Linked DNA regions of Homo sapiens. The protein of the gene in region 2 interacts with the protein of the main gene of each other region in a biochemical or structural test. Each region holds a gene or a part of one and is shown on either strand. Other genes may lie near its edges. The genes, in order: CREG1 and RBL1.

Region 1 (3,823 bases), on a different chromosome or scaffold from region 2:
ACTAGGACTCACTTCCAGATGTGTGTCCATTTCTGACCTCTTCAAAGTTCTCTATATTTCTGCTTGCTGTTCATTTTTGCTTCGTTACTTTGCCACCACTTCAAATTCAACATGTTTAAATCCAGTCCTTCTTCCTCCTGAAACAAGCTGCTTTTGATCTTCTGCATTTCTGTTAGTGGAATTATTGTTTTCTCAGTAAACCCAGTTGGTTCTCACTGCCTCCCCAAATCCCTCAGTTCCCAAGTCCTGACAGTTTTTTGTTGCCTTCTTTACCTCTGTCCTTGCCCCTTCCTCTTCATTCCTGCCACCTCATCCTTAAGCTTATCATCTCATGCCTAAAAGTACTAGAACAGCTCTTACATAGTCTTCCTGTCTGCCCCATCCACCTTGCCTACCCAAATAGATTAACAAAAATACCTGTCACAGCATTGCCCTCTGGCCAGAAACCTTTAACAATACCCAGCTGCCTATAGCTGCGTAAGAGCTACCTGGGATGTTTGTTTAAAATGCATATAGAGGCGGGTGCGGAGGCTCCAGCCTGTAATCCCAGCACTTTGGGAGGTCGAGGTGAGCGGATCACCTGAGGTCAGGAGTTTGAGACCAGCCTGGCCAATATGGTGAAACCCACCTCTACTAAAAATACAAAAATTAACTGGGTATGGTGGTGTACGACCGTAGTCCCAGCTATTTGGGAGGCTGAGTTGAGAGCATCAGTTGAGCCTGGGAGGCAGAGGTTGCAGTGAGCTGAGATCACGCCATTGCACTCCAGCCTGGGTGACAGAGCTTGATTCTGTTTCTAAATAATAAAATGCAGATAGAGGACAGCTTGGTGGCTCATGCCTGTAATCCCAACACTTTGGAAGGCCGAGGTGGGAGGATCACTTGAGTCTAGGATTTTGAGACCAGCCAGGGCAACACAGTGAAACTCCATGTCTACAAAAAATAAAAAAATATTAGCCGGGTGTGGTGATGCACATCTATAGTTCCAGCTACTCAGGAGGATGAGATGGGAGGATCACATGAGCCCTGGAGGTTGAGGCCACAATGAGCCATGATTGTGCCACTGCACTGGGTGGCTGCCTGGGTGACAGAGTGAGACACTGTCTTAAAAAAAATATTGCAGGCCAGGTGCGGTGTCTCACGCCTGTAATCCCAGCACTTTGGGAGGCCGAGGTGGGTGGATCACAAGGTCAGGAGTTCAAGACCAGCTTGGCCAACATGATGAAACCCAGTCTCTACTAAAAATACAAAAATCAGCTGGGCGTGGTGGCACACACCAGTAATCCCAGCTACTCGGGAGGCTGAGGCAAGAGAATCGCTTGAACTTGGGAGTTGGAGGTTGCAGTGAGCTGAGATCGCACCACTGCACTCCAGCCTGGGTGACAGAGCAAGACTCCGTCTCAAAAAAAAAAAACAAAAAAAAATTGCAGTTATTTGGGTTGGGAGTGAAGCCTGTTTCAACATTTTAACCCAAATCAGCATTTTATCAAGCTCTCCAGGCAGGTGGTTCTTAGAAAACAGTGCCTAAGGTTGGCCCACAAATTACAATCTAGACTCCTTAACTTAGGTTGGAGCCCTCTCCACTCCCAACCCCAGGCTCCTCCCGTAGGAAAGCCCTTCTTTCCAGCAAATCAGGTTTCTTGGTACTGTTCATCAAGTCTTAGGCTCACCCAGTTCTGTGTTTTTTGCAGTCAGTGTCTCCTCTCCCTTTAATATGTCCTCCCACCTTCTATCCTGGTTTTGAATATATTATAAAGCTCCTTACAGTTCCTCTATCACTCTGGTCTATGCTGGACATACACATTTGTTTATGTCTGCCTTTTCAACCAGATTATAAACTCACGGAGGGAGAGAGTTTACCTGAGTGTCCCCCTCCCCTTCTTTGGTCTCCTGTGGTGCCTTGCCTAATAGTTTCTAGACAGTGACTATTTGGCTAAATGATTTCAAAGAAATCTCTTTATGACTCTTTGTTTTGATGGGTCAGTGTGAAATGGCAAAATTCTCCACACAAGGCACTTAGAGCTTAAAGAGCTAAATAGTCTAAAATGCGATGTGTGAATTTTGCTATAATCTGTCAACAGTGCCTTTTATGAAGTTGATTTCTGAATAAGAAAGCATTAAGAATTTTACTTGTGTTACTTTTTGAATGTGGGATAAAACTCATTGTTACTAAAGCAGGAATGAACAACTTCTCCAGTTTTGAAATCACATGACAGTTTCTGCTAATGTAAGATAACCAAGTAGCATGATTCAGCTACTTTCTTGCTTAAATCGCGTAGTTAGCCAATTGAGCAACTGTGGTGTTTTTAGCAATGGTTTTGTATAGAGTTTAACCCTTTAAATCTTTCAGTGAAGCCTATAGAACAGCCTTGAATTTGGGTGTCACTATAATTATAATTCTTCTGATGAATATGGAATAAATTCAGGGTTTCAGAAAAAGAATATTGAAATAATTTTTACCAAGTCAGTTCATTTTAAATATGAACCCCCGCACCCCCTTTGGGGAGTGGTCAGGATACTTTCCAAGTATTATTTTCCCCTGAGTGGAAGGTGATGTTTTATGATTCATTGTTTCGTGGAAGACCAGTCAAGCTCTAGGGACATCATGTATGCAACTTTTGAAATTTATTACCTCTCCAGAAACCATATTTCACATGAGAGGATCTTCATTTTCTCTCTATAGGAGAATCCATATGCTACACTGACCATGACTTTGGCACAGACCAACTTCTGCAAGAAACATGGATTTGATCCACAAAGTCCCCTTTGTGTTCACATAATGCTGTCAGGAACTGTGACCAAGGTAAGTAGTTATCCTACAGGAAGGGAGATGGTTTCAGAACACCATCGTATTCACAATGAAAGAATAGATCATTTTTCTTTTGAGACAGAGTCTCACTCTGTCTCCCAGGCTGGAGTGCAGTGGTGTGATCTCGGCTTACTGCAACCTCTGCCTCCTGGGTTCAAGCGAGTCTTGTGCCTCAGCCTCCCTAGTAGCTGGGATTACAGGCACGCACCACCACACCCAGCTAATTTTTGTATTTTTAGTAGAGATGGGGTTTCACCATGTTGGCCAGGCTGGTCTTGAACTCCTGACCTCAAGTGATCCACCCACCTCGACCTCCCAAAGTGCTGAGATTACAGGCGTGAGCCACTATGCCTGGCAGAATAGATCTTTTCAGAATGAAATGCAGTTGATTTGTGATTGCCATGCCCAGTCAGAACATGTTCTATTCTAATAGGTGAAGTAATTCCATGAAAACCAAACGTTTTAATAAGTTGCTTTCATATAGGTGTTAAATAAGATATGACAAAAATGAATGATTTTCTGAAGCCAAGCAGATGTAACAACTATGAAGCTCCTGTATATAAAGTTATTCTTACTAAAGAGCATCTGGTTGACCAAAGCCCTCTACTCTCCATTACATTTTACATTGGTATAATGTTTTTCCATGTCTGGGCTCCTTGTCTCCATATTTTAACAGTGGCTTAAAGCAGAGAAAACATATTAAGTAGGCCAACCAGAGGACTATCCATTACTGAAAACTGGAAGTGAATTTAGTTTGGATCACCTGCTGAAGGGAAGAGGTCAAATACAATCTCAGGAAGAGCAGTGGGCATGGTGTCAGGAGTGCTGATCTGATTACCCAGCCAGCAGATTTGCTTTTTGACCGTGTCAATCATTAATGCCTCAGACAAGTGTTATTTATGGTCTGTAAATTCTTTGTGGATGCATCTCTGTAGTTGAGTGTCCTTCACTGGCAGGAAAAAGATGGAGGAGCAGCACATGCTTTTGAGTTCTGTTATGTGGTTTCTAAACATT
Region 2 (3,823 bases):
AAATCAATACAACAACATCTCTTGTGTTCCTTTACATTAATGAACAATCTAAAAAATGAAATTAAGACAATTCTACTTACTTATTACTTACAATAGCATCAAAAAGAATACTTAGGAATAATCTTAAGCAAGGACTTGTCTTGCAAAAGACATATACAGAAAACTACAAAATGTTGCTGAAAGAAATTAAAGAAGACGCAAATGAAAAGACATCCTATGATCATGGACTGGAAGACTTGACATTCTTAAGATGTCAACACTAGCCAATGCGATCTCCATATTCAATGCAATCTCTGTCAAAATTCCACAATGTTTTTGCAGAAAGAGAAAAATCCATCCTAAAACTCATACAGACTCTCAAGAAATCTTAAATAGCTAAAACAATCTTAAGAAAGAAAAACAAAGTTGGAGGTCTCACACCTCCTGATTTTAAAACTTATGACACAAAGCTATGGTTATCAAAACAGTGTGGTACTGAATACAGATAGACATATAGTCCAATGAATAGAATAGAGAGCCCAGAATTAAACCCCCATATCTATGCTCAAGTGACTTTTCAACAAGGATTCTAAGCTCATTCAATGGGAAAGGGCAGTCTTTCAACAAATCGTGCTGGGAAAAATGGATATCCATGTGCAAAAGAATGACTTTAGACCCTTATCTAACACCATATACAAAAATTAAAATGGGCTGGGCGTGGTGGCTCACGGCTGTAATCCCAGCACTTTGGGAGGCTGAGGTGGGCAGATCACTTAAGCTCACGAGTTGAGACCAGCCTGGGCAACATGGTGAAACCCCGTCTCTACAAAAAAGTTCAAAAACAGGCCCGGCGTGGTGGCTCACACCTGTAATCCCAGCACTTTGGGAGGCCAAGGTGGGTGGATCACCTGAGGTCAGTAGTTTGAAACCAGCCAAACCAGCACGGTGAAACCTCGTCTCTACTAAAAATACAAAAATTAGCCAGGCGTGGTGGCATATTCCTGTAGTCCCAGCTACTCAGGAGGCTGAGAAAGGAGAATTGCTTGAACCCGGGAGGCAGGGGTTGCAGTGAGCCGAGATTGCGCTACTGCACTCCAGCCTGGGCAACAGAGTGAGACTCTGTCTCAAAAAAAAAAAAAACAAAAACAAAAAACCCAAAAAACGAAAATTAGCTGGGCATGGTGGCACATGCCTGTAGTCCTAGCTGCTCAGAGGGTCGAGGTGGGAGGATCATCTGAACCTGGGAGGCGGAGGCTGCAGTGAGCTGTGACTGCGTGACTGCACTCCAGCCTGGGTGATAAAGTGAGACTCTGTCTCAAAAAAAAATAGACATAATAAATATAAGAGCTAAAAACTATAAAACTCTTAGACGAAAACATAGGGGAAAAGTTTTATAATACTGGATTTGGCAATGATTTCTTGTGTATGACACCAAAAGCACAGACAAAAAATGAAAAGAATAAATTGACTTTATTAAGATTAAAAACTTTCATGTGTCAAGAACACTATCAACGGAATGAAAAGGCAACCCACAGAATGGGAGAAAATACTTGTAAATAGTATATTTTATAGGAGATTAATATCTAGAATACATAAAGAACTCCTACAATTTAACAAAAACAAAACCCAAAACTCATAATTAAAAAAATGGGCAAAAGACTCGAATAGACATTTCTATAATGAAGATATATAGATGGGCAAAAGCACATGAAAAGATACTCAATATTACTAATCATTAGGGAAATGAAAATTGAAACTATAGTAAGATGTCTCTTTATACCCATTGGATGGCCATTATCAAAAAAACAAACAAACCAGAAAACACGAAACGTTGGCAACGATGAGAAGAACTTGGAACACTTGTGCCTTGCTAGTGGTAATGTAAAATGGTCCACCCACTGTGGAAAATGGTACGGTGGTTCCTCAGAAAATGAAATACTAAATTACTCTCCCATTTCTGGGAATATACCCAAAGGAATTGAAAGCAGAGACTTGAATAGATATTTGTTGCTATTTTTTTTTCTTCTTAAGACAGGGCCTCGTTCTGTTGCCCAGGCTGGAGCGCAGTGGTGTGATCTCGACTCACTGTAGCCTCAACCTCCTGGGCTCATGTGATCCTCCCACCTCAGCCTCCAAAATAGCCAAGACTATAGGCATCTGCCACCATACCTGGCTGCTTTTTTTTTTTTTTTTTTTTAAAATAGAGATAGGGTCTCACTGTGTCGCCCAGGGTGGTCTCAAACCCCTGGGTTCAAGTGATCCTCCTGCCTCGGCCTCATAAAGTGCTGGGTTTACAGGCATGAGCAACCACGCCTGGTTTGAACAGACACCTGTACACAAATGTTCATAGCAGCATAACTCACAATAGCCAAAAGGTAGAAGCAACCCAAATGCCCATCAGCAGATGAATGAATAAACAAAATGTGGTATTAAAAAAAAGTATATTCATATGATGGAATATTTTTTCTTTTGTTCTTTTTTTCTCTTCTTCATACAATGGAATATTATTCAGCCTTGAAAAGGAAGGAAATTCTGGCACAAGCTATAATATGAATGAACCTAGAAGACATTACGCTAAGCCAGTCACAAAAACAAACAAATATCGTATGACTTCACTCATAGGAAGAACCTAGAGTAGTCAAATTCACAGAAACAGAAAGTAGAATAGTAGTTGCCAGAAGCTGGGGAAAGGGAGAAATGGATACAGAATTTCAGAATGGGAAGACGAAAAAGTTCTGGAGATAGACGGTAGTAATAAAGCTGCACAACAATGTGAATGTATTTAATACCATTGAACTGTACACTTAAAAATGGTTAAAATGGTAAATTTTGTGTTATGTATATTAGAAAAAAAAAAGACCAAAGTCTGTCTCTGTTACTCAATCTTTCTTCCATTGATTAAACAAATTCTTCTAAAGTGCTATAAAAACACATACCTTTCTGTAAAATAGTGCTAAGGACCCAGTTCTCTTTGGCCTGTTTATTCCAGTTGAATGTACCTCTTGTGCTTTAGTCAGATTGGTCTGTTTTGGAGAAGCACCAATTAATGAATGAGCAGTAAGTGATACAGGACTCTTGACTTTGGACTCCTGATTTGTATTCATGGAAAGAGGTATCAGTGTGATCTCTCCAGCATCATTTGCGACACCTGAATGTATAAGCATTATTAGAAATAATCTGCATATGTTCTAGGAAAGTTGTCAACTATATATATTTTGACAATTATATATACATATATCTGTGTGTATAAGAAGGCTACAAAATAGTAATTCTAGGTTATGACTGAATTCTTTTTTTTTTTTTTTTTGAGACAGGGTCTCACTTGGTCACTCAGGCTGGAGTGCAGTGGCGCCATCTCAGCTCACTGTGGCCTCGACCTCCTGGGCTCAAGTGATCCTCCCATTTCAACCCCCGCAAATAGCTGAGACTACAGGTGCAAGCCACTATGCCTGGTAAATTTTTTTTTTTTTTTTTTGAGATGGAGTCTTGCTCTGTCGCCCAGGCTGGAGTGCAGTGGCGTGATCTCGGCTCACTGCAACCTCTGCCTCCCGGGTTCAATTCTCCTGCCTTAGCCTCCTGAGTAGCTGGAACTACAGGCACATGCTACCACACCCGGCTAATTTTTAAAATATTTTTAGTAGACACAGGGTTTCACCATGTTAGCCAGGATGGTCTCGATCTCCTGACCTCATGATCTGCCCTCCTCGGCCTCCCAAAGTGCTGGGATTACAGGAGTGAGCTACTGTGCCCGGCTTGTATTTTTTTTTTAGAGATGGGAGTTTTGCCATGTTGCCCAGGTTAGTCTCGAACTCGTCAGCTCAAGCCATCTGCCTGCCTTGGCCTC

Evidence for each region.
Region 1: the proteins of RBL1 (region 2) and CREG1 form a complex in vitro, tested with the Homo sapiens proteins (one study listed by BioGRID).

Annotation. Positions count from the first base shown.
Region 1 is NC_000001.11:167,546,982-167,550,804, reverse strand, and holds part of CREG1 (protein CREG1 precursor), read left to right. Parts: intron 1-2,683; coding exon 2,684-2,803; intron 2,804-3,823.
Region 2 is NC_000020.11:37,029,750-37,033,572, forward strand, and holds part of RBL1 (retinoblastoma-like protein 1), read right to left. Parts: intron 3,128-3,823; coding exon 2,916-3,127; intron 1-2,915. UniProt on the Homo sapiens protein: Key regulator of entry into cell division. Directly involved in heterochromatin formation by maintaining overall chromatin structure and, in particular, that of constitutive heterochromatin by stabilizing histone methylation.